4 linked regions of the Homo sapiens genome follow. The protein of the gene in region 3 interacts with the protein of the main gene of each other region in a pairwise test. Each region holds a gene or a part of one and is shown on either strand. Other genes may lie near its edges. The genes, in order: FAM3C, FUNDC2, EVI2B and NSG1.

What was found.
Region 1: the proteins of EVI2B (region 3) and FAM3C interact in binary tests that used the Homo sapiens proteins (3 or more experiments, as listed by UniProt).
Region 2: the proteins of EVI2B (region 3) and FUNDC2 interact in binary tests that used the Homo sapiens proteins (3 or more experiments, as listed by UniProt).
Region 4: the proteins of EVI2B (region 3) and NSG1 interact in binary tests that used the Homo sapiens proteins (3 or more experiments, as listed by UniProt).

Annotation. Positions count from the first base shown.
Region 1 is NC_000007.14:121,364,945-121,373,081, reverse strand, and holds part of FAM3C (protein FAM3C precursor), read left to right. Parts: intron 1-942; coding exon 943-972; intron 973-1,658; coding exon 1,659-1,782; intron 1,783-8,137. UniProt on the Homo sapiens protein: May be involved in retinal laminar formation. Promotes epithelial to mesenchymal transition.
Region 2 is NC_000023.11:155,043,069-155,051,205, reverse strand, and holds part of FUNDC2 (FUN14 domain-containing protein 2), read right to left. Parts: intron 4,698-8,137; coding exon 4,622-4,697; intron 1-4,621. UniProt on the Homo sapiens protein: Binds directly and specifically 1,2-Diacyl-sn-glycero-3-phospho-(1'-myo-inositol-3',4',5'-bisphosphate) (PIP3) leading to the recruitment of PIP3 to mitochondria and may play a role in the regulation of the platelet activation via AKT/GSK3B/cGMP signaling pathways.
Region 3 is NC_000017.11:31,309,918-31,318,395, reverse strand, and holds the start of EVI2B (protein EVI2B precursor), read left to right. Parts: upstream 1-4,341; 5' UTR 4,342-4,417; intron 4,418-8,478. Other genes in the region: protein EVI2A, read left to right, coding at 1-93. UniProt on the Homo sapiens protein: Required for granulocyte differentiation and functionality of hematopoietic progenitor cells through the control of cell cycle progression and survival of hematopoietic progenitor cells.
Region 4 is NC_000004.12:4,403,750-4,411,886, reverse strand, and holds part of NSG1 (neuronal vesicle trafficking-associated protein 1), read right to left. Parts: intron 2,315-8,137; coding exon 2,204-2,314; intron 1-2,203.

The sequences.
Region 1 (8,137 bases), on a different chromosome or scaffold from region 3:
TAAGCTTTTTCAATGTTATTATATTACCTTTATGGCTTTAATGGTGCATAATATTCTACTGAGTGTTCTATTGAGTTAATGAGCTTTTATTTACTTGGTCATTTTCCTCTTTTTAAACATTTCAATACAATCTTTTAACTTTCAGCTTACTAGTTGGAGTATTGGACCTACAGGAAGTTCACAATTATCTAAAATAGTACAGAACTAAAAACTGTGTGACTATTTATAGCAAGACAGCTGGTTAACATTTATCACACTGCATACTTATTAGTCAAATCAGGAAATGGCTGTCCACAATACTCTGATGATCTGAGTTATAATCTCCTGGGCTGGGATCAGATGTTAGTGCTTTTAAAAAGCCCTACTATAATTATGATAGATGGTCAGGTTGAGAACTACTACATTCAAATTAAGATTTGACCTCATGGATTCCTTGAACTGATAAATTGTAAATCTTTTAGTAATGATCTTCCTCATCCCCCTCCCTGGCCCTCGCAATCTCCTAACCTCACCACTAAGATAGATTCATGTATATTCTCTGGGGCTTTCTTTGCGTATCTGTACAACACCATACAGCAGCAACAACTTTTAAACACCATCATATTCACCAAATTTATATTTATAAACATTGAAAGGTAAGTTTGTAGAGTAACTTCCTGATTGAAATTTAAATATATAGTAACTAAAATTCAAAACAAAATGGTAAGGGAAAAATAAAATGTTTTATCAGTAGTAAAATACTATCCTCCATAATTATTTAATAGTTTATAATGAATGTACAGTGTGAAGTTACTTTCTCACTTTTTCTTAAGTGATATTCATGTTTTATTGTATACTGAATCATTATTTGAACACTTATTTTTGTGGACCTAAATATATTTTAAAAGTGGATACTTGCCAATAGACTCATTCCTTCTAACAAAAGTAATTTTTTTTTTTCAGCAAGATCAGCATTGGACACAGCTGCACGTTGTAAGTATTTCATCTCAATATTTTATGTATGATTTATTCTGCCTTAGGCATATGAGAGCTTATATTCAAAGTGTCAGTAGTTCAGTATGAGGAAAAACTGCTTTAGAAATTGCTTTTTAAAGTTATGAGGATGCTATTTGATTGGACAGCCCAAATATTTTTGGCAATTATTCATGATGGATATTTTGTGTTTTTTAGCTCCGTTATTATAAGTACAGAAATTGGTGTGAGAAGGAGTTAAGAGTGTACATGGGCAAGGTAGTCAATGGAACATTAGGCCTTTTTTAATTATCCTGGAGGTGACGATTTTTTGTGCATATATGGACTAGAAGTGCAAAGTAACATTCAGAACCCCCCACATCCTAAAATTTAAAAATAAACTCATAGTTAGATAAAATATATTTGCCCTAATGCAGATCATATTACTTGACTCATTTGCATCCATTATTAGTTTGTTTCCTAGGAAGATCTGGTGTCTGTTGTGGGTTTCTTTGTTGCTGTTTTTTTTTAAAAAAATTTTTTGAGGTTCTTTGAAACCCTCAGGGGAACAAATTAGCTTGTATTTTAAGATACGTGTATCTTGATGTTTTTCTTAATGCTCTTTGTGGTTTGAGATTTGAAGTAAAGTGAGGTAAAGTCTGTTAACTTGTTTTCTAAAAAAAGACATCATGTTTTCTCCCCCAAAGCTACAAAGCCTCCCAGATATAAGTGTGGGATCTCAAAAGCTTGCCCTGAGAAGCATTTTGCTTTTAAAATGGCAAGTGGAGCAGCCAACGTGGTGGGACCCAAAATCTGCCTGGAAGATAATGTGTAAGTCTTTGTTGACTTGAGACGATAAGGTGTGCTATTAAATTGCAGCCAATTGAACCTGAGTTTAATGGATATTTTGAAAATGTGTTCGGTATACTTTATTAATGGAAAGTGATTTCCATTTTTGTTATGTAGTTTTTTTCTCATGAATTCAAGGGACCTTAAAGTTCTTAAATTTTATATTAGAGAGTGACTAAGAACGTAACACTTATTCGGCTTTATAGAGATAAGAGATTTCCTCTGAGTAAATTCTCTAGATCTGCACTGTCCCATTTGCTAGCAACAGAACACATGTGGCTATTTAATTTTGATCCTTAAATATTAGGAAGAAAGTTAATTCACTTAAATTAACTAAAAAGTTCAGTTCCTTGGTATCTGTCACCGCAGTTCAGGTGTTCAGTGGCCACATGTGGTTCATGGTCACCAAATGGAACAGCAGAGAGAGCATTTTCATCGTGGCAGAAATCCTATTTGCAACATTGCCCTGGACAATGAATGTGTTCTCTTTATTTTAAATGAAATCCAACGTCTTTCATTTAAAATATTTGAGTGCTACTTGTTGAAGTGTGAAATGATCCAGTGATAACCTCAGTTCCATTGCAGCACAAACTGCTTGCCTCTAAGCTGAATGGTTTCCTATGTTGAGATGCTTTCTAAAGGATGGTTTTTAGGATTTTTGATATCCTACCTCAGTGTCAACTGTTGCTCGCAAGTTCCTGCTGCTGAAATTGCAAATCCTACTTTTAGTTGGTTGCTTTTAATATGCTATTGCCTAGAAAACTAGACATGGGGGCTTATTTAAATTTAATATAAAATAATAAATTTGTCACGAATTATATAGAATAAAGAGATAATTTTATAGCAAAGAGGAGACCTAGGCAGCTTTTCCTAGCTGTTTATGTGCCTCTTCTTTTTAATATTGAAGCTCTTAAATTTTTATCCTAGCCTCTTTTGCAGGCAGTTAGCTGTAAGAAGTTTATTGAGCTTCATGGGACAACACTTTTCTTGTAAAATTAAGGGCTTGAGCTAGATGATCATTAAGGTCTGTACTGATTTCCTTTATTTTCCCGTATTCTAATGATGATTTATTGTTAATCCATTTGTCTTCTGATTTCTCATTAGAATAGTCCTGTTTTACTGATGCATAATAAGGCACTTGCATTTTAGAAGTTTGTAGGTTTTTGAAAACATTCTCATTTCCACTCTTTATCTTGTTTGGTTAAATAGACCCCAAATTTGATTCTAAATCACAGGAACAAAGTTCTTTTAGAATACCTAACCCATGGATGATTTTGGACATCTATTCTGCCCCCTTGATGCATGTGAATTTTAGTTCAGAGAAGAAGAGATCAGACTGTTTACTAGCAGGTTTTTTATTCACAGATTAAAACCGTAAACAACAAAACACACTCAGAAAAAAAGCTCAACTGTTTACCCACATCCTGACCCTTATTCACTTCTCTCCAGATCTTCCTGATCTTGGGGCCTTAGAGTATACTCTTCTGTCTAGGATGGTCTTTCCTCACTCTTCACTTGGCTGTCTTCCTTCTTGACCTTTGGTTCTCAGAGTACACATCACTGTCTTAGAAGCTGTTCTCTATCCCTCAGCCTAATGTTGAACAGCTAAAGATCTAAGGTCAGAAAGCGAACAGTGCATAGACAGTGGAGCTTGGTAAAATACATACTGGGCTTAGAGCCAGAGAATTTGCTTCTAGCATGGTGGGCGTGTCATGTAGCATTTGTGTTTCAGTTTCTTTAACCATTAAATGAGGCAGGCCACCTATCCATCCTTATTTCAGGAACCATTCTGCCATTACCATGAGAGATTAAATACTTGGTGGGATTTTATACCCAAGCCTCAGGTTAAAGTCCAAAGAAAGAGTCTTAAGTTTTCTGAGAGTCATTTATTCACCTGTTCAGCAAGTATTTTTGAGCATAATCCCTCCTGTCATGGAACTTACAGTTTAGTAGGGGTGACAGATGCTTAAAAAAAATACGTACTTATAAATTGTGACACCAGGCTGGGCGTGGTGGCTCATGCCTGTAATCCCAGCACTTTGGGAGGTCGAAGCGGGTGGATCACCTGAGGTCAGGAGTCTGAGACCAGCCTGGCCAACATGGTGAAACCCCGTCTTTACTAAAATACAAAAGTTAGCCGGGCGTGGTGGCACATGGGCCTGTAATCCTAGCTACTTGGGAGGCTGAGGCACGAGAATCTCTTGAACCCAGGAGATGGAGGTTGCAGTGGGCCAAGATCGCACCACTGCACTGCAGCCTGGGTGGGCGGCAGAGCGAGACTTTGTCTCAAAAAAAAAAAAAAAAAAAAACAACAACAACAACAAAAAATGAACAAACAAATTGTGATACCAGCCCTGCAGGGCAGCAGGGTGTGATGAGTACTGGCGAGAGTGGATGGAAAGAGGTGTCTAACTTTTAGATTGAGGGTTATGGAACAGTTTCTAAGACAGTGATGTGTATTCTGAGATCTGAGGGATAGAAAGGAAGACCATCCTTGGTCTTCGAGCAGGAGGAAGAAGCCTGCTCGAAGGCCCTAAGATTGGATAGCTCTGGAGAGAAGTGAATTAGGGCCAGGCTGCATAGGAACTTGTAGGCCACGCAGGTAAAGGGTTGAGACTTTTTTCTGAGTGTATTGAGAACTTGTGGAAGGATTTCAAATTCTGGCATGTCGTGATTTTATTTATATTGAAAAAAGTTATCTGGTTGCTGTGTAAAATAATTAAGGAAGTGGAATAGAGAGGACAATTGGAAGGCCATTGCCAGTTACTGCCACAGCACTTTCATACTGCCTCCCTGTTGGTAACAGACTTTATTGCTTATACATTCACTAAAATCTATAAGTAGATAATAAAAATAACACAAGCAGAGAATTTAGTCTTTTCACAGCACCTGCTCTGAGTACATGTAACTCACTTTGGAGACTACTAATCTTGGATCAGTGTGTCTCAATGGGGGCAGTTTTGCTTTCCAGGGAACATTGTAATTTTGGGTTGTCATAGCTTTGGAGGTACTCCTTGTAGAGGCCAGAGATGCTGTTAAACATCTTTCAGTGCATAGGTCAGCTCATCCACAAGAATTATCAGGCTCTTAAAATGAGAGGCTGGGTTTGAGAAACTCTGATACAGACAGGTGATAATTACAATTAGGATGGTGGTCATAAGTAGTTGAAGTCAAAATACATTATGCTGATAAAGATGTGTTTTAAATGTCTCATTAGTTAGAAAATCGCAGGTATGAACCTCAGGTCTCAGGAAAAACAGTAATTGCAGCTTTTTTTTTTCCTTTACTTTTTCTTTTTTCTTTTCTTTTTTACCTAGAGACAGGGTCTCATTCTGTTGCCCAGGCTGGAGTACAGTGACGCAATTTTAGGTCACTGCAACTTTGAATGCCTGGACTCAAGCGATCTTCCCACCTCCACCTCCTGAGTAGCTGGGACTACAGGCGCATACCACCACATGCAGCTAATTTTTCTATTTTTGTGGAAATGGGGTCCCATTGTGTTGCCCAAGGTGGTCTTGAAGTCTTGGGTTCAAGCAGTCTTCCCACCTCAGCCTCCCAAAGTGCTGGGATTACAGGTTTTTTCTTTCTCGTTAGAGCACCCATAGAACTAACTTATGTTCCAATTATAATTTTCATCTAAGGCATATATTCATTTGATTTCAATTTGTATGAATTTGATATTAGGAATAATTCATTACTTTTGATTTTAATGGTAATGTTTGCTGCAAGAATATGAGATTATTTTGAGGGATTTTTTTTTAACAAGGGATCAATGTTTTTGGCTATGAGGGCAAAGAGGTAAAATCAAGGTTATTATGTATGTACTTACATAATCATTTAAAATGTAACCATTTAAAAATGTAAAAACTATTCTAAGCTCATGAGTAGTAAAACAAATCAAAAAACCAGTTGGCAGGATTTGGCTCGTGAGCTATAGTTTGCCAAGCCCTGCTTTAAACTAACCATCTTAAGAGATAATAACTAATAACTAGGACATGAAGTAGCTATTTGAAACAAATCTATATTTGGATATATTGAGTATTTCTACAGATGATATAATCATTTCCTTTAGAATTTTGCCTAGAGATGTGGGAAGGGGTACCTTATATTCATGAAGGATAAAAGAAAATATTTCAACTTGTGTTAGTAAGGGTTACTAACCTTTATACATTTTAAATCTCAGTGGATTTTTTATTTGTTAGAGATTTTCTGTTTGAATTTCAGTTTTTAAAAATTGATAAGCTGCTGCCCTCTTGTGGGAAGCCTATGTCATTGTGCTTCTTTGTTACCTTTATTTCTTTGCTTTATGATAGATTTCAGTCTGTAAAATGCCACATCATACTCCTTGATGATCTTTACTTGGAAAAGTCACTCTGGCACTTAACCCGTTAATCACAGCAGTTACTTCTTAATGATGGAGTTTACTTATTGAATGTATTTCTGAAAGAAACAGAACAGTACATTTTGAAACTTCCTTCTCTTTGATGCAGCTGAGCCAATGGTTAAGTAGTAAAGCATAGAACCTTTTAAATGTATATGCTCCAAGCTAGTACTTTTAAACAGCTTTGAGATATAATTCACATGCCGTCCATTTTGCTCATTTATATTATACAGTCAGTGGTTTATTATATTCACAGATATATGCAATCTCTGCCACAGTCAATTTTAGAAAATTTTTATACCTCAAAAAGAAACCCTGTACCCCTTAGCTAATATCCTTCTATGCCTTTCTTGTCCTGCCCCACTTCCCCACCCCCAAACCCTAAGTTAACCATTAGTTTCCTTTCTGTCTTTATAGATTTGCCTATTTTGGACAGTTCATATAAGTGGTATATAATATTTGGTCTTTTGTGATTGGCTTCTTACCATAATGTTTTCAGGCTTCCTCCATGTTATATCATGTATCAGAACTTCATTCCTTTTATGTCTGAACGATATTCCATTGTATGGATATACCACATTTTGTTTACTCATTCATTAGTTGGTAGACATTTGAGTTGTTTCCACTTTTTAACTATAATGAGTAACATTTACAGAAACATTTATGTACACATTTTATGTGGACATATGTTTTGATTTCTTTATACTCCCAGGGAGTGGATTTTGTTTTAGGTGGTAACTCTGTTTAATTATTTGAGGAACTGCCAGATAGTTTTCCAAAGTGGCTGCATCTGTTTGCATTTCCGCCAGCAGTGTATGAAGGTTCCAATTTCTCCACATCCTTGCCAACACTTGTTATTATCTGACTTACTGATTATAGCCAGCCTAGTAGATGTGAAGTGAAATCTCATTTGCATTTCCCTGATGATTAGTGGTGTCTAGCATGTTTTTGTGTGCTTATTGGCCATTTGTATATCTTCTGTGGAGAAATGTCTGTTGAAACCCTTTGCCCATTGATAAATTGGGTTGTTTCTTTATAATTGAATTGTAATTTCTCTTTTGATTAATGTTTGCATGATATGTCTCTTTCTACCCTTTTACTTTCCACTGCCTATATAATTATATTTAAAGTGAGTTTCTTGTAGACAGTGTGTAGTTGGTTCCTGTTTTAATTCACTTTGCCAATTTCTGTCTTTATTTGGTATGTTGAAACTATTTTCATTTATTATAATTATTAATATATGAGGGTTTAAGTCTATTTTATTATTTGTTTTCATTTTCTCATTTTCCTGCCTTCCTATGAGTTACATAAACATTTTAAAAAAGTGTTTCTTTTGATTTATTTATAGTGTTTTTGAATGTATCTCCCTATAGCTTCTTTAGTGCTTTCTCTCTTTACACAAAAAGTTTGCAGACTCAAGTTCTAGACTTGAGGTGAGGGAGAAAATATTACACAGATTAAATTGAAAAATATGTCCTATCTATATCTATTATATGGTGGATAGCACCAAAAATGTAGGAAGTAGTCTTCCAATATTTAAAACTTATTATCTGATTCAGTCATCATTGACAGGCAAGTGGAATTTGAACATGAATCTCCATTATTTGTTTTTCTTTATTTTATCTTATTAACATAGATCCAACGTTTGTTAGAACTGAGCTCATTCATCAATTGCAACCATAGTTCAGCTGCAGATGTGAATTGTTTGAAAAATCAACTAAAATACTCTGTGAGAATCGACTGAGATTTATAATAAAGTACATCGTAGATTTTATTTATGAAATTGTGTGCTATACATCTTTTAGTAGTTTATAATAAATTGTGTACCTATGTGTATATATAATTCTGTCTATATAAGGACAAGTGTGTGCACGTGTAGTCACATATGTGCATATTGCCTCTCTCTCCTAAACACAGAGCAGTTGTTAAATAGTTAACAGCACACCACTGGGAGTA
Region 2 (8,137 bases), on a different chromosome or scaffold from region 3:
ATGAGCAAGTTCATATAAACGGATATTAAGAGAACCACATCCAAAGACACCTACAGCATATACCTATTTCCCTTGATAAAAACAGCAGGCACAAACACTAAAACTCAGTGTAAATCTGATTCAAGCATGTAGATTTTGATGATGGATTAATATCATCCTAGGAATGAAGAGAATGACTGTAGCCAATCAATCAATGCCCTATCAATATCACTTCTCTCTACCAAATTTTTGGCAATCTCAAAATATCTGAAACTAAAAGTCTTCACCTTGCTAGAGTCTCCTCCTGCATTGTTGCTCTTCCTCTAGGCCCTATTTTAGCTAATGGCACCACCAGTCACCCAAACAGACTAGAGAAAATACTTGTGATGTGTATCATAAACAAAACATTGATACTCAAAAAAGTGAACTTCTTATAGAGATCAGTAAGAAAGTTCACTTTAAAAATGGGTAAGGGCAATTCAGAGGAAAGTGTCCACAAAAAGGAAAAAGTTCAACTTCACAAGTAATCAAGCCATAGTACCTTTATTTATGAGTCTATAACTGGAAATACACAAAAGTCTATCAACACATGAATGGATAAACAAATTGTATCATATTTACACAATAGAATATTACTTAGTACTAAAAAGAACAAATTACTTACAGCAACCACATAGTTGAGTATCAACATTTGTATCTAAAAGAAGGCTCTGGTTCATTTACTCCACCCTGTTTATCCCACAAAATCCTGCTATTAAACTGAGAGAATACATGGACTAGCTATTTGAAGGCTCTTACATAAAAACAGCGACGTGCAGATTGGAGAAGACCAGAATTCAAAGCACCACCAAACTGGTGGCGTGTTTCCTGCTTTTCCTGCAGTATCGCCTGGCCTAACCTCAAGGCAGGACTCAAGAAACATCTGACAAAATTCAACGCAAATTCATGATAAAACTCTCAGAGAAAGAGCAATAGAGGGGAACTTCCTCAACTTGATAAAGAACATCTACATAAAAAACCCTGCAGCTAACACTGTACAGAATGGTGAAAGAACGAATGCAGGGAACAAGGCAAAGCTGTCCGCCGTCTCCACTCCTATTAAATATCGTACCAGAAGTGAATTCAGAGTCAGCACAACAAGGCAAGAAAAAGAATTAGGAGGCATCCTGATTCACAAGGAAGAGGTCAAACTGTCTCCAATCATAGACATCTTTGTCTACATAGAAAATTTCATAGACTTCAACAAAAAACAAAAACTCCTAGACTAAAAAAGTGAGTTTAGCAGGGTCACAGGACACAAATTCACACAAAACCAACTGAATTTCTATATGCTAGCAATTTGAACTGGAAATGAAAAATGTTTAAATGATTTACAACAATGGGTGCAAAAAATAATTAAATATTAGGTACAAATCAAATAAAACATACAGGATCTGTATACTGAGAACTACAAAATGCTGAAGAAAGAACTCAAAGACAACCTAAATAAATGGAGAGACACATCATGTACATGGAATGGAATACTCAACACAGAAATGATGCCCAGTTCTCTCCAAATTATCCATAGATTTACTGCAATCCCAAATCACAAATCCCAGTAGGATTTCTTATAGATACATAAATAAGCCGGTTCTAAGATTTATATGGAAAGGCAAAGGAACTGGAATCACCAAAATGAATCTGAAAAAGAACAGAGTTGGGGAAATCACACTACCTGATTTAAGATTTACTATAATGCTACAGTAGTCAAGACAGTGTGTCATACTGAAGAAGAGATAGACACACAGACCAACAGAACAGAATAAAAAGTACAGAAACGGACGTGGACAACTACAACAAACTGATTTTTCACAAGGGGGCAAAAGTAGTAATGGTGGTGGTGAAGTCCCCTGGGTGGCCCAGGCCAGGATTGCGAGGTGACTTCCTGCTCTCCTTGGCATTACTGGGGGACTGCACTGCAGGGGCAAAGCAACACCAGAACTGGGAAAAGCAGCCTCTCCCGCTGCAAGGTCCCTCCAGCGCCCTCTACTGACAAAGCTCAACATCCTACTTCCATTGCAGCACAACAAGTAGAGGGAGCCGAATAAACTGAAAACTGGCAAGCGTTGCTGCTGGGCTCTGAAAGCTGCAAAAAGTGCTGGAAATGATCTACAGCTTGGTAAGAAAAAGCAACTACATTCATAAAGACGTGAAGGAAAAATTTCACTGTTCACAGATGGCATAAAAAGATTTTATAGACAAAACCCAAAAGAATCCCAGACAAGACTTTTTTAACAAGGTGGCTGGCTGAAAGAGCAACATAAAATATCAACTGTATTTCAACACACTAGCATGAATCAGAATGTGTAGTTTTAAAAATCGTATCATCCACAAGAGCAACTAAAGTTATAAGGTATCCAGGAATAAAACTGAATCACAGATGTACAAGATCTATACGGAAAAATAATAAAAAGTCTATTCAAAGGCATTAAAGAAGACCTAAATAATTGGAGAGAAAGCCCGTGTTCACAGATAGAATACTCAATATCATAAGAGATATCTACATGGTTCCAATGCAATTCCGATAAAAATTTCAACAGGATTTTTGAAAATAACTGACAAGTCTGATCTAAAATTTAGATGAATGAGCAGAAACACAAAAGTAGCTGCAACACTCCTGAAGAATAAGGTGGAGGAATTTGCATTACCAAATATTAAGCTTTAGTACTGTCATAAAGATCGAAAGTTGACCAGTGGAACAGAACACAGAAACCAGAGTCACAGCCACACATACATGGGTTCTGATATATGAAAGAGACAATGCTGCAAATGTTGGGAAAGGGAAGAATTATTCACTAAATTCTGCTCAATTATCAGTATGGAAAAAAGGAAACTGGATCCCTATGTCAAACTATAACTTGTGATATAACTGATCTCCCAACATTATGCTTGCCTCCTGCTCTCACTCCCCTGGTGACAGATAACATGAGTGCCTGCCACAGATTCTCCATGTCTCACCTCTGCAGCAAAGCAGTGTCCCTGTACCCCTTGAATATTGGAATTATCCAACCCCAAAATCTCATTTTGAGGTGCCTTTCTGGAGACATTTTCAATACCAATTATTTCTGTCAGGGCCCCAAAACGAAACAGAGGACACACTCAAATTAAGACATTTCAAAGCAATATTAAAATGTTTATGAAGTTTGGGGCAGCATATAAGGGAAACCACAGGGATAGAGATGTTACTGCACTTCCACCTGAAGGGTCAAGGGGAAGGAGAGAGAGGTGTGAGGAGGGGCCCCACCTTGCAGGGAGTCTGACCTGTCTAGCAACAGAGCCAGCACGTAACAAGCCCACAGGGAAGCAGCCAACAAAAGTGAGGCTTGGGCAACAAAGGAGATGCAACTTGCACCATGTTTCTGCAGAACTGTGCTTGGGAGTCCTGAGGTCATGGTAGTGTGAGGAAGCCTATACTGGCACAGGGACCACATGGAAGAGCACTGAGACTATGGACAGGGGGGAAATAAGGAGAGGAGGAGGGAAGACAAACAGAGACAGAGACACAAAGAGGCCCCACAAGTCCAGACCTACCCTAACCCTCTGATCATCTGGCCTGTAACCACATGAGACTCTGATCCACAAGCACCTACCTTAACCCTCCCCAAACTCCTGTAACCATGAGAGAGAATAAAGTGATCATTATTTGAAGCCATTAGGTTTGGGGGAATTTGTCATGCAGCAATACCACACTCAACCCAGCTACAGCCAGTTACCAGCTTCCCTCTTCGATACATTTGATTTTCACCTGACCTATCTGCAAAACTCACTCCAATCATGGTGCTAATGCAGAACTTACCTTGCAAAAGTGAGGGTTGCCAACTGTGGGAAGAGACAAACGGCTGTGAATTCAGAGACTCTGGCATGATTCAGCAAGTTATGGCTCCCACAGCACAGCAGAATCACCTCAGGAGTTTTAAGTTTTCCAATGAAATCAGACTGTGGGTCAGGAGTGGCACACGTTGGCTCTTTTAAAAACTCCTAGGTGATTCCAATGTGGAGCCAAATTTGAATACCAATGCCACAGAGCTAAGAAATGTATGCCTAATACAATCAAATGTCAGTTTTCTTTTGTTTTTGGAGAAACTGCTCCCTTTTTCAAGTCTTGCTTGTTAGTCTCTCCTAAGCAGTCTCAGAGAACTGGCAACCACTGGTTCTGAAACTATGGGTCAAGGAGACAGCAGACGACATCTGACTGTACTGTCACTTAGCTCCCATTTCTCATCACATGCTCAACATCCCCTCTGTGAAAGCTAGCTATAATATTAGCATATGACACTAAATCATCACAGCACACTTGTATTTTTGAAATCACATCCGCTTAATAATTCAGCTGGTCTTAAAAACTCTTTTAAGGGAGCTATGATAAGGAATTTGCACTTCTGTCGCCACATGAGGAAATAAAATGGGACTGGCAAATAACATTTACTAGTATAATGAATAAAATTTGACTCAAACGGTCACTAGCATTTAAAATAGTACATGAAAACAAGTGCTAAGGCTAGTCTAGTGTGACATAGCCAGGACTGTATTACAACTCCCCACACCACATTCCTTAATGGGCAGGTGGAATTTCCAAACATCTGAGAACATTTCACATACAGACCTGAAGGAGAAAAAATCCACCTCCCACAGCTGTTGCAGCCAACTTTCCAACCTTCTGGAATATGAAACCTGTGCACCTACAAAAACAAACCAACATCAGACAAATTGATGAGCTGTCAGTTACATACAAACATGCATTTCTGGCAATGTTCATATCTTACTTAGCTTAAGATGACCTAGCTCCTTCCTACCCCCTACATAAAGCCAGCCCCAAGAGGAGCATGACATAAGGAAATCAAATCTTGGCTCTATGAATCTTGTGGTCTTGAGTAAGTCCCTTAAAACTCTCAGGTTATATTTTTAAAAGATGACTCTGGCTACATTGTGGAGAAGAGATTAAAGGGGGAGGACGAAGGCAGAGACTCTAGTTAAGACGGTGAGGTAGCGATCCAGAAGAGAAGTGAATGCCAATGGGCCGAGGTAGAGATGGCAAGGAGGGAGCAGACCTGAGGAACTGTTTGTGAAGAAAAAAAAAAACACTCCTGAGTTTGAGGACAGGATGGTTGCAAGGGATAAGGCACAAGATTCTGTCCTGAATGTGGCATTTTTTACAATATAAAAACAAGGAAGAGGAATAGAGGAAAAGGTGGGGGAAGGGAGGGGAGGAGATAATGTCATTTTGAATATGTTGAATGCAAAATGTCCATATGATATCTGAGTGGCAACATCTTGTAGCCAGTTTAATATAATTATGTGTTTCTTTATTACTGTCTATCTTCCTGCCCCCACCCGATACTAAAATGTAAGCTTCATGAAGGCAGAGATTTTGTTGTTTCATTGCTGAACACCTATCAGCTGTAATCATTAACCATTGTTGAAAAAATCCTCCCTAGACTCCAATTCTCCAGCCCCCTTCCCTTTTCTGTGCTCTCCTTTACAGCAAAACTACTTTGAGGCCGTCTCTTTTGTCCTGTGTCCATATTCTCTCACACCTACACCATTCAGGCTTTTGTCCCATGACTTCAATGAAACCATTCCTATCAAGGTTACCACTGATCTTGACCTTACCAAATGCTAGTGTTCACTTCTCAGCTTTAATCTCATCTGACCTACAGCAGCTTTTGACACAGTTGATTACTCTCTCCTTTTTTTAAAAAAGGTATTTTATTGTGTATATTTGAGGTTTACAACATGATGTTATGGGATACATATAGACAAGTAAAGTGGTTACTATAATGAATCAGATTAATATATCTATCATCTCACATAGTTACTTTTTTGTGATAAGAGCAGCTAAAATCCACTTAATTCACAGAAATCCCTAAGGCAATACAATTGCATTAGCTGCAGTCCTCATGCTGTACATTGGATCTCTCGACTTGCTCCTCTTACATATTTGCTACTTTGTATCCTTTGACCCACATCTTCCCATTTCCTCCCATCCTATCCCTGGTAACCAGTTTTATTTCTTTATATTTATTATATTATACAACTGTATATATGACTTTTTCCCCACACATATGAGATCATGCAGTATTTTGTCTTTCTATGTCTGGCTTACTTCACTTAGCATAATGTCCTCCAAAATCTATGCTATGGCAAACAGCACAATCTCCTTTTTTAAGGCTAAATAGTATCCCATTGTAGACACATTTTCTCTATCCATTCATCCATTGATGGACACTTAGGATGTTTCCATATCTTGGCTACTATAAATTAATGCTGCACTGAACATGAGAGGGCAGATATCTTTATGAGGTGGTGATTTCATTTCCTTGGGGTATATACTCAGAAGAGGAATTGCTGGGTCGCATGGTAGTTCTAATTTTAATTTCTTTAGGAACCTCCATACTGTTTTCCATAATGGTTGTAACAATCTACATTCCCGCCAACAGTGTACTAGGGTTCCTTTTTCTCCACACCCTCATCAACAATTATCTCTTGTCTTTTTGATAACAGCCATTCTAACAAGTGCCAGTTGATATCTCATTGTGCTTTTAATTTGCATTTCCCTGATAATTGATGATGCTAAGCATCTTTTCATATACCTCTGGTGGCCATTTCTATGCCTTCTTTGGGGAAATGTCTGTTCACGTCTTTTCCCCATTTTTTAAATCAGGTTATTTGTTGTTCTGCTATTGTACTCTCTCCTTCTTGACATCTTTTTGCTCTGGAATACCATTCTCTCTTGGTTTTCCTCATATATCACTGGCCATTCCTTATCAGACAATTTTGCTGAGTCCTCCTCTTTCTGACTTCTGAATGTTAGGTTGTTCTGAGGCTCAGTCCTAGAACCTCTTTGCTCTGTGTATTCACTTTCTATCTGCTGGGTCTATACCATGATCTCTGATGTAGGTTACTGTTACAGCTCCTCATCTGGACTTCTTACCTCCACTTTCACCCCCTAGAATCTATTCTCAATATAGCAGCTCATACAGTCCTAAAACAGGGGTCGACAAACCGCAGCCTGGGAGCCAAATCCTGCCAGATGTCTCTTTGTAAATCAAGTTGCAACAGAGATTGTGTGATCCATAAAGCCTACAATATTTACCATATGGGCTCTTTACAGAAAAACTTTGCTGACCCCTGCTCTAAAATGTAAGATCAAGGTACACTTCTGCTCATAACCTTCCAGTAGCTTCCCTCCTCACTAAGAGAGAAAGTTAAAGCCTTACACTTAACATCTTGTCTCCCATTACCTCACTACCCTCATTGTCTACTGTTCTCCCCTTATTACATTTCAGCTCAGTAAGAGAAAGAATTACAAATACAACAATGCATGGAGAACCTCATAAGACTTTTAATCTTTTTTAAACAAAAGTTAGATGTCAGGCAGTATATTTCTGAAGCGACTCTGAAATTGGAAGGGTGGTAGGACCAGTAAATAAATGATAAGGGTCCATTTTAAGAGCATTCCACTGTTCAGACTTACTAAAGTATAATCAGAGTAACTGACATATTTAGAATGGTTACAGATTTTTGCTGTTACAAAAATTGTTGCACTGTTTACAACACCTGGCTTTTTCTCTTTTTAAAACAAAACACACATTTTAAATAAAGCCTAATAACAAAGCAAGACCCAAAAAGATCAAGTGATTTCTAAGTAACTGCATCCAAGAACAAGAATCAAGCACATTTATAAGAATAAAAAATATCTAGCACCCAATGAAGTAAAATTCATAATATCTGCCATCTAATTAAAAACTACCAGGCTTGCAAGGCAGAAAAATACCACGATCAAAAAAAAATAAACTAAAAGAAACCCAGAAATGATACTGATGAAAAAATTAGTAGACAAAAGCATTAAAAGTTATTACAATTATATTCCATATGTTCAAGAAGCTAGAGAAAAGATTGCACATAATAAGTAGAGGCAAGGAAGCTCTTTTAAAAACATGCAAATCTTGGCTGGGTACAGTGGCTCATGCCTGTAATCCCAGTACTTTAGGAGGCCAAGGCAAGAGGATTGCTTGAGCCCAGGTGTTTAAGGCCAGCCTGGGCAACATAGTGAGTCCCCATCTCTCTAAAAATAACTTTTTTAAATTAGCCAGGCACGGTAGCATGCACCTGCAGTTCC
Region 3 (8,478 bases):
CTAGTGATGCAATCTACTGGAGTGCTCACAGCTACAAGGGAAAGAAAAGATGAAGAAGGAACTGAAAAACTTACTAACAAACAGATAGGTTAGTGAAGAAAAATGCAAAGTAGCAATGAGAAGGCTTATGGAGTAAAAATGAAGTCAGTTGGTATTTAATCCCAAAGTGTTGTTCTGATTATCTAAAATTTGACATGGTAGACCTTGCAATTTAGAATCAAGCAGGTGAGACAGGGAGAAGTATGCCTGCTTAATTATTTAAACTGTGTACTTTTGTTTTGACACTGAATATTTTAAAAAGCAAATAATAAAATAACTAAGCATTTGAGGAAAATTTTAAGGATAAATTGAGGAAACTGATTAATAGAGATAGCAAGGGATAATTAAATAAATATTCCCTATGTAGCAACAGTGGTTAGATGATCTTTGTCTGAATGTAATTAAACTTTGAATAGTTTTAGTGTGTCCTTAAAGCCAAGTATATGCTTTAACATCAAATGGAAGTCAAATTCCTAATGCATAGATAGAGAGAGCTAAACTGTGTAATTTAATGGTATCTTCCTTGCTGGATGTGGCAGAATCCACACCAGCTTATCAACCAACACAGCTAATTTTAGAATAGATCCTTTATCTTTCCATATGGCACACGTAAGAAAGTGTTTTTCTACTATTAATATTAAATTAAAACCTTTACTTTTGTATAATAAATTAAAACTCAGAATAAACCTGTGACCACGTATATTTGCATTCACTTTATTACTTTAGAGAACACATTGTAAAGATCAATAAGAAATAGAGCACAACTAAAATAAATAAGATTTATAGCCACACCAATAGGCTAAGTGTAAACGCAAAGTATGTTTCACTGTTTATGATTAATAATATTCATCTTTTCTATAAATACTACTTACTGGAACATTAACAACAAGTACCAAAGGTTGATTAATTTTTGGACTTCAAGGATGCCAAGTAGCCTAATGATTTATTAGGGGTGTGTGTGTGTGTGTGTGTGTGTGTGTGTGTGTGTTCAAATCTGGAAAACTGCATACTTCAGGTTATAATTTAACCTTTAAAGAAACTGGCTTCAAGTAAAATAATGACTTACATTTAAGTTGAGAACCCCCCCATCTTCAATTAAATATATTACAAAAATTGGTTTGAGAGACTTTCCAAATATCTACTGAAATTAACACAGGGCTAAGATCAGGCCACATTTCAAAAATCTCATCCCTTACTGGGCATTTATTTCGGGCAATATAGTAACCATTTTAAAAATATTTTTTATATGTTTTTTCCCAAGTATGACTACAATCTTACTCTCCCTTCTAAGCTAGTGATTCTTACCCTGGCTGCATGTCAGAATCACCTGAAGAGTTTTTAAAAAACACCAATGCCTAATTCCCATGTCTTCCTTCTGATGCAACTGGAATGGGGTGAACTCTAAGCATTGGTAATTTTTACGTAACTCTCAAGGTGATAACTGCTCTTGGTCATCAAATTCAAACGTCTAGCTATTATTAAAATGAGAGGAAAAAAATAAAGCATCATTTTTATTATCAATTTATTAGCAATTTGTAAAAAACAAATCTATTCTCTAAACGAGAAATCATAACAATATTATTCCAGATAAAGTTAAGTGTTAACAAAGTAAAAAGGAAAGCATGAGAATATTCATGCCAGTCATGGTGACTGAAATCAGGTTATCTTTTGAGGGGAAAAATAACCCAGATTAGAAATGAAACTGGGCAGACTTCCCATTCTGTGCAAAAATTGAAAATTTGAGATTGTGCACCAGTACATCCAGGAGTAACACAAAGCACTCCTTGAATCAAGGGTCATAAATAAACACGTGTCAGAGAAAATTAAAAGAAATTAATATCATCATAAAAATAGGAAATTACTTTCATATTCAACATACTGGTCAAACATTTTCTCACCAGAGAGCTTCTACCACAAGGATATTTAAAAGAATATTTAAAATTCACCACTCACTATCTTGGCTATTAAACATATACTCTCAGAATGGTACTATCCAATGATAGTTACTGAACAAACAGAAGTGTTTCCTTTCCAAATGACAGGTATTTTAAAATGGTAGGTAAGATATCTTTGAGTTCAAAATTTAAAAGTCATTTAGTTTTGAACAAAAACACATTCCCTACCCCTGGGTATTACAGTTCACCAGCTTAATTCAGGGATTTAAAAATAGTGAATCAGGTTAGGCACAGTGGCTTACACCTATAATCCTGGGAGGATCACCTGAGGCCAGGAGTTTGAGGCCAGCCTGCACAACAAAGTAAGAGCCTCATCTTTACAATAAATAAATAAGCCAGCCAGCGAGCATAGTAGCATGTGCCTGTAGTCCTAGCTACTCGAGAGGCTGAGGCAGGAGGATTGCTTGAGGTCAGGAGTTCAAGACCAGCCTGCGCAACACAGCAATACCCTGTCCGTAAAAACAACAATACTTCCAAAAACCAGTGAATCAAAAGCTTTATAGCATTTGATTATATTATGCTTTATAGTAGGAGCCCATAAAAAAAAACTATTCTTTTTGCACCAAGCTATAAGTACCCTGAAGTTAAGAACAAGGTCATAATAACCTGTGTTTCCCGCAGTGACCAGGAAAAAGCAGTGCATGGGTTAACACATTCCGTACCTACTATAATATGCATCATCCAAGGCACTTTACATTTATTTAATTCCACAATAAGCTTATAAATTAGGAATTATGATCTCCATTTTTCAAGAGAGGAAAGGTGACTTACTCAAAGAAATTTTTATTCAGATGGACTCACTCCTTTCAATACACTTTGTTTAGTTAACTTAAAAATTTTTTGTATTTTAAATTTTTGTGGGTACATAGTAGGTGTATATATTTAAAGGGTAATGAGATGTTTTGATACAGTCACGCAACGTGAAATAATCACATCATGGAGAATGGGGTATCCATCCCTTCAAGCACTTATCCTTTGTGTTACAAAGGATCCAATTACACTTTTAGTTATTTTAAAATGTATAATTATGGTATTAATGACAGTCACTCTGTTGTGCTATCAAATAGGTCTTATTCATTCTTTCTATTGTTTTTTGTACCTATTAACTGGTAACACCATCTCCCCAACCCCTCATTACCCTTTAGTAACAAGTTAACTTTAGTTAACTTCTTATTTAAAAAATGATCCCCAATTTATTTTATTTTCCACTGAGAAGTAACTACTTTGTGGGTAATCAAATAAATAGTTGAGAACTTGAACTCAAAAGTCACTAGTAAAATATTTGGTCAAAATAATTTAATTACAAATATACAAATGGCAAACAGGCATACGAAAGGGTACTCAGCACCACTGATGAGAGAAATGCAAATCAAAACTACAATGATACCTCATCTCACCCCAGTTAAAATGGCTTATACTCAAAAGACAGGCAATAACAAGTGCTGGGAAGGGTGTGGAGAAAATGGAACTCTCGTACGCTGTTAGTGGGAATGTAAATCAGTAAAACCACTATGGAGAACAGTTTGGTGGTTCCTCAAAAAACTAAAAATAGAGCTATCATATGATCCAGCAATCCCACTGCTAGGTATATACCCAACAGAAAGGAAAACTGTACAAAGAGACATCTGCACTCCCACTTTTGTTGTAACACTATTCACAACAGCCAAGATTTGGAAGCAACCTAAGTGTCTATAAACAGATGAATGGATAAAGAAAATATGGTACATATACACAATGGAGTATTATTCAGCCATAAAAAAGAATGAGATCCTGTCATTTGCAAAATAATGTAATTATACTTTTACCCTGGACTTTTTATATTATGAGGAAATAACATTACATTTATTGGTTACCTGCAGTTGGTGAGGCATTTATACATGTTATATTATGCTATCTTATTTAATCCTCACAATAACCCAATAAAATATTCCTTTAGAGGAGGAAACGGTGACTCAGAAGTGCAGAGTCTTGCCTAAGGTCATACAAGTAAACAGAACACATCACTCACTTCTTATGAGAAGAAATCTCACTGTAAGTGATAACCCAACTGGCAGCTTTTCTTCTTAGAACATGTAATTTTCTCTTCGGGACTCCATCCTAAATATTTAATTTACATAATCATATTACTAGAGTATCTCAAATATTTATTTACATAATTAAAAGCACTCAAATCATAGGGCTCCAAAATGTATTTCAAAATAAGTTCTGTTAAAGTAATATATTTCTTAGTCACTTTGTGGTTTATTGCACTTCCGGAACCAGCTATTGATAAACTTCCTCTTTTTCTACAGAAACTATTTCAGTTTGCTAGAGGAACATTTTAAATCTGAATTGAACCACCCATTTTCCTTTCTTAGCCAAATCACCAAAATGTCCAGTTAGAACAAGAATTTAGCATTCTGCAAAAGAAGTTAACAGCTGAGGTAAGAAAATTTTCACACAATTTGGTTTGATCTTGCTTTATATAAAATTTATTTTAAAAACTGTCATTAGTGTTTTAAACTTAAACTCTGATAGTCTAAAGATGTCTATAACAGGTTTTTGTGGTTTTGTTGCATAGAATTAAAAAATACTCAGTTCAGCTTGCCTTAGAAAAATATTTTCACCTAGGTTTGTATAAGACCTTTTAAGTTTATTTAATCTCACACACACACACACACACACACACACACACACACATATTTTTTTTTTTTTTTGAGATAGAGTCTTGCTCTGTCTCCCAGGCTGGAGTGCAGTGGCACGATCTCAGCTCACTGCAACCTCCACCTCCTGGGTTCAAGCAATTCTCCTGCTTCAGCCTCTCAAGTAGCTCGGATTACAGGCGCCCACCACCACGCCTGGCTAATTTTTTTGTATTTTTAGTAGAGATGGGGTTTCACTATGTTGCCCAGGCTGGTCTCCTACTCCTGACCTTGGGTGATCCGCTTACCTCCGCCTCCCAAAGTGCTGGGATTACAGGAGTGAGCCACCGCTCCCAGCCACAATCATATTTGTTAACCTTAGTTTTAGAATTAAAAAGAAACTATAGCCATGGCAGATAAAGCTAAGGGTTAGAAATAGAACTAGATTCCACAGGCTATGACTGAATTTATAACCTCCAAAATATTAATTGTTAAAAGTTCTAATGTACTTTTTATAGAATTTTCCTGTACATAATATAATGCATAAATTAAAATTTTTGTATCCCCTTTAGTTTGCATAGTAAGAATGGTCACTTTCACTTAATTTAGAAAGAAAAAGAAATCAGATGTGGTATTTGACTATTATTATTATACATGCTTTATTTTTTACATATAGATTTTATATTTAATAATGATGACATGAAAACATTATGGCTCATTTTAAAAGCTTACTAAGCCAAAAATGTTAGTCAATAATCAAACATGCATGCGTATATTAATATCATCTACGTGTTTATGTCACATTATCTGAGACTTTAGAACATAGTATAAGATAGAAGAAACCTATAGAATAAACAATAGAAAATTGTTAATATGCATAAAAGATGCTTGCTGTGGGTAAAATGGGCAAATAAAAACTGCAAAGAGTATTTTACATAGACTTGTAATTTCAGGGAATAATATGTTCATAGTGGGTGATATCCCATTTCAACACTTAATAAATATTCATGACTTTCTCTTAGAAGGATTTCTTCTAAGTAATTACTGTGGAAGTCAGAAAATAAAGATATTTATCTCTTTTTCAGATTAGGCTTGTCTATATATTTTTCTACTTCTAATATTTAGTTTATTTCATTATGCATAAAGTCATAAAATTATATTAAATTTTTTTCACTGTCATATTTCATAAAATTAAAAAATTTCCCATCGATCCTTATGGTGTGTTTTTGTCATAGAATCCCATACTTTTTTTTTTTTTTTTTGAGATGGAGTCTCCCTCTGTCACCCAGGCTGGTGTGCAGCGGCACCATCTTGGCTCACAGGCTCACTGCAACCTCCGCCTCCCAGGGTCAAGAGATTCTTCTGCCTCAGCCTCCTGAGTAGCTGGGATTACAGGCACCCACCACCACGCCTGGCTAATTTTTTGTATTTTTAGTAGAAACGGGGTTTCACCATGTTGGTCAGGCTGGTCTTCAACTCCTGACCTCAAGTGATTGGCCCACCTCGGCCTCCCAAAGTGCTGGGATTACAGGCAGGAACCACTGCGCCTGGTCCCATACATGTTTTTAAAGGGTTAGTCCCAAATCTAAAGTTTACTAGTAGTGCCTGTGTTTTCCAGCTAATTCCCACATAATTCTACTTAGAAGGAAACTTTAATTCTGATTAAGTTTGAATTGAGAAACATAAATCTGATGCCTTTCAATGTCCAAGCTTTAAAAAAAAAATCACCACAAAATTTTCAGTAAACTTACTAAATATGACACTTTATAGAAACCATTCCAAATTCTTATAATAGTTTTCGTAGAATCAGGACTAAAATGGGTTTTCAGGTATTTCTTTCCTACCCTTTATCTAAGACTACCTACAAGTGTTATTTACGTGTAATTCCCACCAACTCACATCTCCTTCCTTCATAAAGCATTTCTATTTCATAACTTTTCTATGAAAGGCAGTATAGCACATACAGTGAAATGTGATAGAAAGAAACGGTTCTGGCACAAGATTAGCATGATTTTTGTATTAGTGCCACTACTTAGAGCTGTGATACTGCCAAGTTACCCAACATCGTGGTGTCTCAGTTTCCTTATCTGTAGGATGAAAAAACCACCACCTAGCTAATTAAAATAGGATACTGCTTAGCCTTTGGTGGGTGCTCAGTAAATGGTCACTATCATGATACAAGATGGTCATCAAATACTTCCTATTGTAGTTGAAGGTCAATTTCTCTTTCCACTTTTCCTCAAGATGCAGAATGGCTGGTTTTTTCTTTTACGGTTTCAAAACTTCACTAGTTAGAGATAATACTACTGCTAAATTTTAATCTATTATATTTGCATCACAACTTTTATTATATCAAAGTAATTGATACAGCTATCTATACTTGTCTTTTGTCTAGGATATGCTCTCCAAATCTTGATTCTCTTTAAAAGATAATGGCATACTTCCTAACATATCCAACTTAACAGCATCAATTTTAAATGCTGGACCCTTTAAGTACTTATGCATTATATTTATAAGAACATGTCTATGGCCGGGCTCGGTGGCTCATGCCTATAATTCCAGCACTTTGGGAGGCCAAGGTGGGTGGGTCACTTGAGTCCAGGAGTTCAAGGCAAGTCTGGGTGACATGGTGAAACCCCATGTCTACAAAAAATACAAAAATTAGTTGGGCGTGGTGTAGTGCACCTGCAGTTTCTAACTTCTTTAGGGAAGCTGAGGTGTGAGGAGGATCGCTTGAGCCCAGGAGGCAGAGGCTGCAGTGAGCTGAGATTGCACCACTGCACTGCAACCCGGGTGACAGAGTGAGACCCTGTCTCCAAACGGAAAAAAAAAAAAAAAAAGAACATGTCTTATACACGGGGACTCCTGCTTCACTGTAACTGTCTTTAAAATGTTTAAATTTATGTTTTTCTTTTTAAAATATTCTAAATATTCAGCAAAGAAAAAGAACCAAAATCACAGATTTAAACCTCAAAGTGCCAGCCTATAATAATGAGTAAAAACCGGCATATGAGGGCTGACAAATTTGCTTGAGCAGCAGACTAAGGGATTTCTGGAAAACTCTATATAAAACGTACACGGGTACATGGGTTCTTTGGAATAATTGCTAGGTATGCTTCTGGATAGTGTCAGGGAAAAAAAAAGGGAGAGGATGGTAAGGATACTCACAGCAGACAGGAGAGCCTGAAATGAAAGGTAAATGAATTTGAAAGGATGGTTCCTTCTGGTCCTCCATTTTAGAAAGCAAGCTCCTCTTTACTGTCTCCCTGCACTCACAAACACAGGCCAGCCACAACAGAGCAGCATTTTGCCGTTGCTTCTTTCATCTACTTCAATCATCTCCCCCCACCCCCAACTTCATTTTGCCTACTTCAATCATCTACACTGCCTTCTTGCTAATTATATAACCACTGCTTTTTTTTTCACCTGTTTATTAACTTTTCTTCTTTTCTGTATCTTCTCTAGTCAATTGACCTTCCTCTTTTCTGTTCGCTGCTTCCTAGAGTTTTTGTTTTTTCTCTTTTGTGTTATTTTGTATTTCTTTGCATTGCCTTTTATATTATTCTAAATCTCCTTTTTATTCCCCTGCCCAATATTGTTCTTTACCTACAGAAACAATGTTGGTACTTCAGGTACACACCACTTACATATTTTAAAATGTGTATGCTAAATAACCTTCCACACTGGTAGTAACGCTGGCCTCATTACCGCTGGGAAAAAAGTCAGTTTTTTCCACTACCATATTCCCTATTTATTCCTCTTTTAAATCTTTCTTCTCCTTCTCTGGACTACACTGAATTGCCATCATAGAATTCTAATACAGTTTCTAGTACTCTGATGTGGCAGATCCTAGGAGGATAAAA
Region 4 (8,137 bases), on a different chromosome or scaffold from region 3:
TTTTAGAGTGCATGCCTAGTTATTAAAAAAAAAAAGTTAACTCTAAAAGAGCTTCAGGGAGCTCCTCCAAGAGAGATTCTGGAAGAAGGCAATGTTTTGTTTTGTTTTGTTTTGTTTTGTTTTGTTTTGTTTTGTTTTGTTTTTAGACGGAGTCTCCCTCTGTTGCCCAGGCTGGAGTGCAGTGGCATGATCTCAGCTCACTGCAACCTCCGCCTTCTGGGTTCAAGCGATTCTCCTGCCTCAGCCTCCTGAGTAGCTGGGATTACAGGCACCCGCCACCATGCCTGGCTAATTTTTGTATTTTTAGTAGAGACGGTGTTTCACCATGTTGGCCAGACTGGTCTTGAACTCCTGACCTCAGGTGATCCACCCACCTAGGCCTCCCAAAGTGCTGGGATTACAGGCGTGAGCCACTGCACCTGGCCTGGCATTGTTATCCTAAGAGATGACAGCCCTGTGCCTGTCACTGCTCCTGAAGACCTTCCAGTGGGACAGGGTGTGGAGGCAGAAGGCGGTGATACTGTGGATCCTGACCCTGTGCAGGCCTAGCTAATGTGTGTGTCTGTGTCCTTAGCTTTAACAAAAATGTGTTGGAAGTAAAAAAAGAATTAAAAAATTTTTTAATAGAAAAAGCACATGTAGAAAAATAATATACAGTTGTGCAAGATGTTTGAGCTTTAAGCTAAGTGTTATTACAAAAGAGTCAAAAACTTACATTTTAAAAGTTTATTGGCTGAGTGTGGTGGCTCACGCCTGTAATCTCAGCACTTTGGGAGGCCGAGGTGGGTGGATCACCTGAGGTCAGGAGTTCGAGACCGGCCTAGCCAACATGGTGAAACCCTGTCTCTACTAAAAATACAAAAATTAGCCGGGTGGTGGCGCACACCTATAATCCCAGCTACTCAGGAGACTGAGGCAGAAGAATCGCTTGAACCCGGGAGGCAGATGTTGCAGTGAGTCAAGAACGCACCATTGCGCTCCAGCCTGGGCAACAGAGTGAGACTCCATCACACACACACAAAAAGTTTATGAAGTAAAAAGGTTACAGTGAGCTCAGGTTAATTTATTACTGAAGAAAGAGTATGTTATGAATGGAGTGTAGCCCACATGTCCAGCGCTCACTCGTCTACAGGAGTGCACAGCCATGCCTCGGCCTTCGCATTCACTCACCACCCACTCCCTCACTCACCCACCCAGACCAGCTTCCGGTCCTGCAAGCTGCATTCATGATGGAAATGCCCTATTCAGGTGGACCATGCGTTATAACGTGTTTTTACTGGACCTCTTCTATGTTTAGATACACAAATACTTACCATCGTGTGACAACTGCCTACATTGTTCAGTATAGCAACATGCTGTCCAGGTTTGTGGCCTAGGAGCAGTCGGCCATACCCTCCAGCCCGGGTGTGTAGCAGGCTGGGCCGCGTGGGTGTACAGGACACTCTGTGAGGCTGGCACAATGATGGAGTCGCCTAACAACGCGTTTCTCAGGACGTATTCCCGTCACTAAGTGATGCGTGGCCAGGCCTCCCCTGGCTCCGTCTTCTCTTTCCACCCTTATCTCCCCTCCCTTTAATCCCGTTGCCTTGCATGTCACTTGTGGGCTTTTGGGAATGAGCATTATATATGCAAAGCGAGCATTTCCATGCCTGTAGAGAGCCCAGCACCAGTGTGGCTCCTGCGGTGGGACAGGCAGGAGAGGGACACAGGTCAGGAGGGTGGGTGTGCCCCCCAGCCCTGCTCCCCTTTCCCTGCGTGGCCTTGGGCAAGGCCTTCCTCTCTGTGGGACTTGGCTTCCCCCAGTACATCCTCTCCTCTTTCATGTGGCGGACATGGTCCCGTCTCTCTCCCTCCCTCCCCCAGAGCAATCCGCTGGGATCCGGTAGGTATCATCCTGGGCATTTCCCACGGCAGACCCTGGCTGGGCCCACTTTCGAGGAGGGCCCTTCCCCGGACTGCTGAGGTCAGCTCCCAGGGGCCAAGTCCGGGAGTTTCCTTCCTGTGGGTCTCATGTGCCCCCTGCCTACCTGCCCTGCTCTCCAGGTGGGCCTTCCACAGGGACACTCCTGACACTGGCCCCCTGCTGCTCTAAGGCCTGTCCGTGGGCCAGCTGGGGGAGACGGCAGGAGCAGCCTTGAGTTCAAGGGAGAGAACATGGGGTGCAAAGGCGTCCCAGGGCCTCTGGGGGAAAACGGAGTTTTACCTTGAGGACGAACCCATCGGGGCAGGCGCGGTCATACTTGTACACCTTGTAGACAACCAGGAAGACGACGCAGGTGAGGAAGGCCAGGGCGAAGAGGACCAACACGGAGACCTGTGGGCAGAGGTGGGACTGTCAGGGGTGGCCGGAAGGCAGCAGGACAGACACACACACACCCGCACACGAAGGCCCCCCCCCACACAGCATGTGCAGAGACTATCTCTGGAAGAACCTGGTAAGGGCAGCTAGGCACAAGAGGTTAGAAGCATCACTGTTCACTGGGCAATTTTTTGGTAACATTTTAATTTTTCACCATATTCATAAGTGACATTCATTTTAAATTAGTTATTTTTAGTACCCAAGGTCCTGCATAGAGAGCTCAGGGTACAGATATGAAGAAGCCCCACTGTTGCCCAGGCAGCTCTCGGGCCACTAAGACACATGTGTGAGAAGTGGGGTTGGGCTGCCCACTGCCCCATCACGGCGGTGGTGCATCAGCTACCAGCCAAGCATCCGCTCAGCAAATGTGTCCTGAGCCCTGGGCTCAGTGCTGGGACGCAGTGTCGCATGGACACCAGCCTGCTTTTGCGTGGGACCAGGAAAGACAGAACCTCTGCAGCCCCATTGGCCTTCGCCCTCGGCGGTTTCCCATGTGGTTAATTAAGTGTCCTCAGGGACAGGGATTCGGTTTTCTTCACCATGGTATGCTGAGCACTAGACAGCCCCAGCACACAGTAGGTGTTCAGCTGGTGTTTACAGATGAACTCACGACAGCTGCAAGACAGCTGGCTTGGAGGGGGACAGCCTGCCCCGGCTGGAGGGCACGGGGCATGGGTCACTAGATGACACTGGACCTGGACCTTGAAGGCACTCACCCGGCTGCCAGGGAGCCTGGCAGGGACGAGAGTATGTCTCAAAGCCAAAACGGGCTGGGCGTGGTGACTCACACCTGTAATCCCAGCACTTTGGGATGCCGAGGTGGGTGGATCACCTGAGGTCAGGAATTCGACACCAGCTTGGCCAACAGGGCGAAACCCCATCTCTACTAAAAATAAAAATTAGCCGGGCATGTTGGTGCGCACCTGTAATCCCAGCTACTCAGGAAAGCTGAGGCAGGAGAATCGCTTGAACCCAGGAGGCAGAGGCTGCAGTGAGCTGAGATAGTGCCACTGAACTCCAGCCTGGGTGACAGAGCGAGACTCTACCTCAAAATAAATCAATCAATAAAAAGCTAAAACAGCGTGCAGATGGCCCTCCGCCTGCCCAGAGAGGCAGAGAGAGCGATGGGGCTCCCTGGCCGGGTGGGAGGATGCCAGGTGCCAGCACGTGGCAGGGCCTCCGTAATCGTATGAACATGCACAGAGCTGCTCGCTCCCCACCGCCCCTCCCAGCAGCCTGGAGGATGCGAGGGGCTGGGACTCTCCCCTGGCCACATACAGACCCTACAGCCAACAAGGTTAAAGAACTGGGGAGCTCTGCTGCTTCCTAAGGCTGCAGTCCCGAAGCTCAACTGGGTAGACCCTCCAGCAGAGTGCCCTCCTGAGCCCTGCCCGCTTCAGGAACTCTAGGCTTGGAGTCCCCTAACACCATGCAGTCCCCAGTTCCCATCTGTGATAGGAGACCAAGGGCGTCCCAGGCACTGGTCCTGGGGAAGCAGGAGATGTACGTGAGAAAGTGTCCTATCAGCCGTGCAGCATGGTCACCTGGGAGACGGGCGGCCACCCTGCCGTGAATGCTGAGGCTAACCCTCCTTCTCTTTGGGGGCCCCTATGCACCCCCTGCAAGCCGCTCAGGCCCCAGCACCAGGGCCCAGGGTGCAGATTCTGCCTGCAGCTCTGCACCTTCGCAGCTTACCAGCCTCACCACCTTGGAAGCCCCTTAACCTCTCTGAGCCACAGACTCCTTCCCTATGACATGGGACGACACCTCCACCACGTCCCCGTCTCTGCAAGGCTGCAGATGCCTGGAGAGCCACACTAGTCACTGCAGCTCATCCCCTGCCTCCACTTCCCGGAGGTCTTCATCTCCAGGCCTCACAATTGTCCCCGAGCCTGCATCCTGACTGCAGGGAGCCCTGGCCACAGGACCAGCTGAATGGGGTGGCTCAGAGCTGAGGGACGTGGCCTCTCTGCAGTCAGATTCCTGTCCATTGTGCTGCCAGATTCATTGGTCCCAGGGGCTCTCAGCACAGTGCCCGGGGCAGGACAAGGGCAGCACCAAGACCCTGAGACCCCAGCCCAGGCTGCTCTCGCACTCCGCCTGGCTACCTGCTACATCCCACCGCCCGCCCTCCCATCTCCCCAGCTCAGACCCACTACAACTCCAATGAGACCTGTCCCCTCTGTGTCCCTTCACCTAGGGAGGGACCCCTCAGGCCCCTGGCAGGCAGATTCACATCCCCTCTGAGCAGGCCCATCCTCCTGGTCCCCAGGTCCTGCCAGTTCCTCAGTCACGTCTCCCGCCTCCACTCCCCCAACCCCGACCGTAGGTTGCCTTCTCAGGGCCATCACCCTCTCTAAGGGCCAGAGAAACTCCAGTCCACTGGGATGGCCTACAGTGCATATGGAGCCTGTGCCTGACAAGGGACACAGACAGGATGGAGCCAGGCTGCTCCCCAGGGCCGCAGTGCCCACAGGGAAAGGCGCCGTTTAGTCCAGATCACAGCTGCAGTGCACAGGCCAGCGCACAGCACCTGGGCCAGGGCAGCAGAGCGCAGAGCTGTGATGAAGCAGGCAGAGCTGGCCGGAGAAAGAAGGCGCAGCCGTCTGAGGCACGTGGCAGCCAGAGGCAGTGGCAGGAGCCCAGCCAGGGAGGGCTGCCTGGCGATGATAGCCGCAAGCCCTGATGGTGCCTGGGGTTGGGACAGGCTCTGGACAGGGGCCGGAGCACAGACCCTGCGGCTCTAGCTCACTGGCCGGGAGTCTGGCACCTGGCTCCAGCCTGTGAATAGCAGTGAAAGGAACGCCTTCCAGGGACAGTCACGGGACACTGAGAACAGCACCTGGGTTGGGGGGGAGCATGACGGAGCTGTCTGCTGTCGCTGCTGTTATCCTCACTCTCATCTCCTCACTGGCCCTGGGGTGTGCGCCTGGCAGACAGCAGAGCGGGCTCTCAACCCTCTAACCAGCTGCCCCGTCGCATGTTCACCCGGGGCCAGCCTGCCCGGGCTCCAGCTACCTGCCTTTCTCCAAGTCTACACTGCAGGGCTGCCTCACTCAGGGTGGTCCAGAAGGACTTGGTTCCATTTAACTGGCCTCCTTCGTAACCCTTTGCATTTTATTCTGTGCATCTGAAAACACTATTCTGAGAAGAGAGCCAAGCCACCACAGGTGCAGATGTCCTGTTAGAAGAGGGTTTCAGGGGCAGACGTGGTGGCTCACGCCTGTAATCCCAACACTTTGGGAGGCAGAGGCGGGTGGATCATGAGGTCAGGAGTTCAAGACCAGCCTGGCCAGCATGGTGAGACCCCGTCTCTACTAAAAATATAAAAAATTAGCCGGGCGTGGTGGTGAGTGCCTGTAATCCCAGCTACTCAGGAGGCTGAGGCAGGAGAATCGCTTGAACCCAGGAGGTGGAGGTTGCAGTGAGCCAAGATCGCGCCACTGCACTCCAGCCTGGGCAACAGAGTGAGACTCCGTCTCAAAAAAAGAAGAGGGTTTCAAGTCCTTGAAGAGATGGGGCATCATTAAACCTGTTTCTCCAGTTGGGAAGCCACATCAGTTTGGCTCCTGGTACCCCACCTGTCTAGATTTAAAAAGAACCCCCATTCTCTCCTGCAGGGCTGTGGGGGAACCACCTCCTCGGGGGTGTCCTCCGAAACCTGGCCAAGCCTTTCCTCCAGGATCCCAGGCCCAACGGCTGAGGAGCCAGCCGAACCGTGCAACGAGAATGCGAGAGTCCCTGGAACAGTCAAGGGGAGAAGGGCAAAGAAATACATCCAGGGAGAGTCAGCGGGCGGCCCGTGGTGTGGCAAAGAGCTCCCCTACAGGCTGAGCTCTCTCTTCCCCCTGCCCTGTGCAGACTCTGGAGCTGGGGTCTCCTCAGCCACTGCAGGGCACAGCATGGGGTCCATGGCCTAAGGAGAGAGAGGGCCACGGGCCTCTCCAGAAACTGGCTCGGAATTGAATCCTGTAAGCTGCTGCCTGTGTGATCTTGAACAGGTCACCTGGCCTCTCTGGGCCCCACATCTCATCGCCAAAGTGGGGGAACCATGCCTTACACCCTGACGCATCTCAGGAGAAGGACAAGAGACCACAAGTTGAGAGCACGCTGGGCCCCTCAAAAAGAGATGCTGAAGTCCAGCCCCCAGGATCTGTGAAGGGGACCTGATTTGAAAATAGGATCTTTGCAAATGAGCCCATCAGGGTGGGCCCTAATCCAACCAAACTGGTGTGTCCTTATAAAGAGGGGAAATTTGGATGTAGACAGACACGCATATAGGGAGAGGGCCGCGTGAGGACGGAAGATTACAGCACTGTGTCTACACAGCAAAGCCAAGGATGGTGGCAACCTCCAGGAACTAGGAGGGGCAAGGACAGAGTCTCCCCTGCAGGTTTCCAAGGGAGCACAGTTCTGCCGAAGCCTTGATTTCAGACTTCTGGCCTCCAGTAGTGGGGGAGTAAATTTCTGTTGCTCTGAGTCCCCCCAGTTTGTGGTACTTTGTTATAGGGCCCCTAACAGCAGAGTGACTTCACAGGGGTCAGGACTGGCTCCCCTCCCCCATACTTGTTCTCTCTGCCATTACCCCGTTCCTTCCGCACCATGCCAGGCTGCCCTGCCCTCTCTCCTTGCCCTTCAAAGCCCTGGCCAGGCCCCCTGCCCCAGGAAGGCTCTGGAACATCCCAGCCTCTATCGGGACACCAATCGTGAATGCAGGCACCAAGGAGCCCAGCATCTCTTTTTTCCTAATTAAAGTGAAATAAAAGTGTCACAGTTTGGAGACTTTCCTAAGTCCCTGCCCCCTCCCCATGAGATACTTAGAAGAATTCTGGAACATTGGATGATGTTACTGAGCCAGACATCGGCGTTTCCTCCAGGACCTTGCAGTATCTTTTAAGCTTCCTCTACAACAACATGCCATGATCGGAAGCATCTTGGAGAACCACGACCACCAGCAACTCCATCGTTCAACCAATTTGAAAATACTTGATGGACGAACTAGCCATTCATGCCAGGGACTAAAAGTGAGATAAGCCCGGGTTCCTGGCCTGCTCGGCCACACGCAGTGACCCTGCAAAGGGCATTCGCCCCAACGCCTGGTTTCCTGTGAAAGGGGGATGCCGGCCCAGCACCTGCGTCTATGATGGGGTGTGCAGGAGACCCCATGGCTGGCAAACAGTGGGCACGGTGAGCTGGGTGAGCCATTGTTACCCTATGGGAGCCCCACTCCCACACAATGTTGCAGGCTCCATGCTGGGCAGAAGCTGGAGACCGTCCAATTCAACGCCTTTCTTTACACATAACAAACGCCTTGTCATTGAAAAGGCAGCACCTCCAAGTCGGCCAACAGGACCCAGGTGATCCTAAGAGGCCGGTGTTGGCTATGCAAAAAGAGAGGTGGCGGCCATTCGCAGTGACTCCAGCCTGGGTACAAAATGGACTCAACTGTGGCTGCCAATGAGAATCATGGGAGGCTCTAATGTCCCCATCATCTGGACTCCACTCCAAGTAGCGATAGCGGCATAGCAAGTTTAAAACTCTCCAGATGCCTCCCGCATGTAGCCTAAGCTGGAAGCAAGGGGATAAACAAAGGATTCCACATCTGGGCAGAATTCCTGGGGGCTCTCGAGCTACACCCCCCACCAGACTTTATACTCTCACACCAAAACACTACCATTAGGAGGAGCTCTGGAGACGTCCGCCGCCTTCTGCACTCTGGTCAGCATTTAAAGTCTGCGTACTCCTAACACAACACCTGCAAGGCAGTATTACTGACTG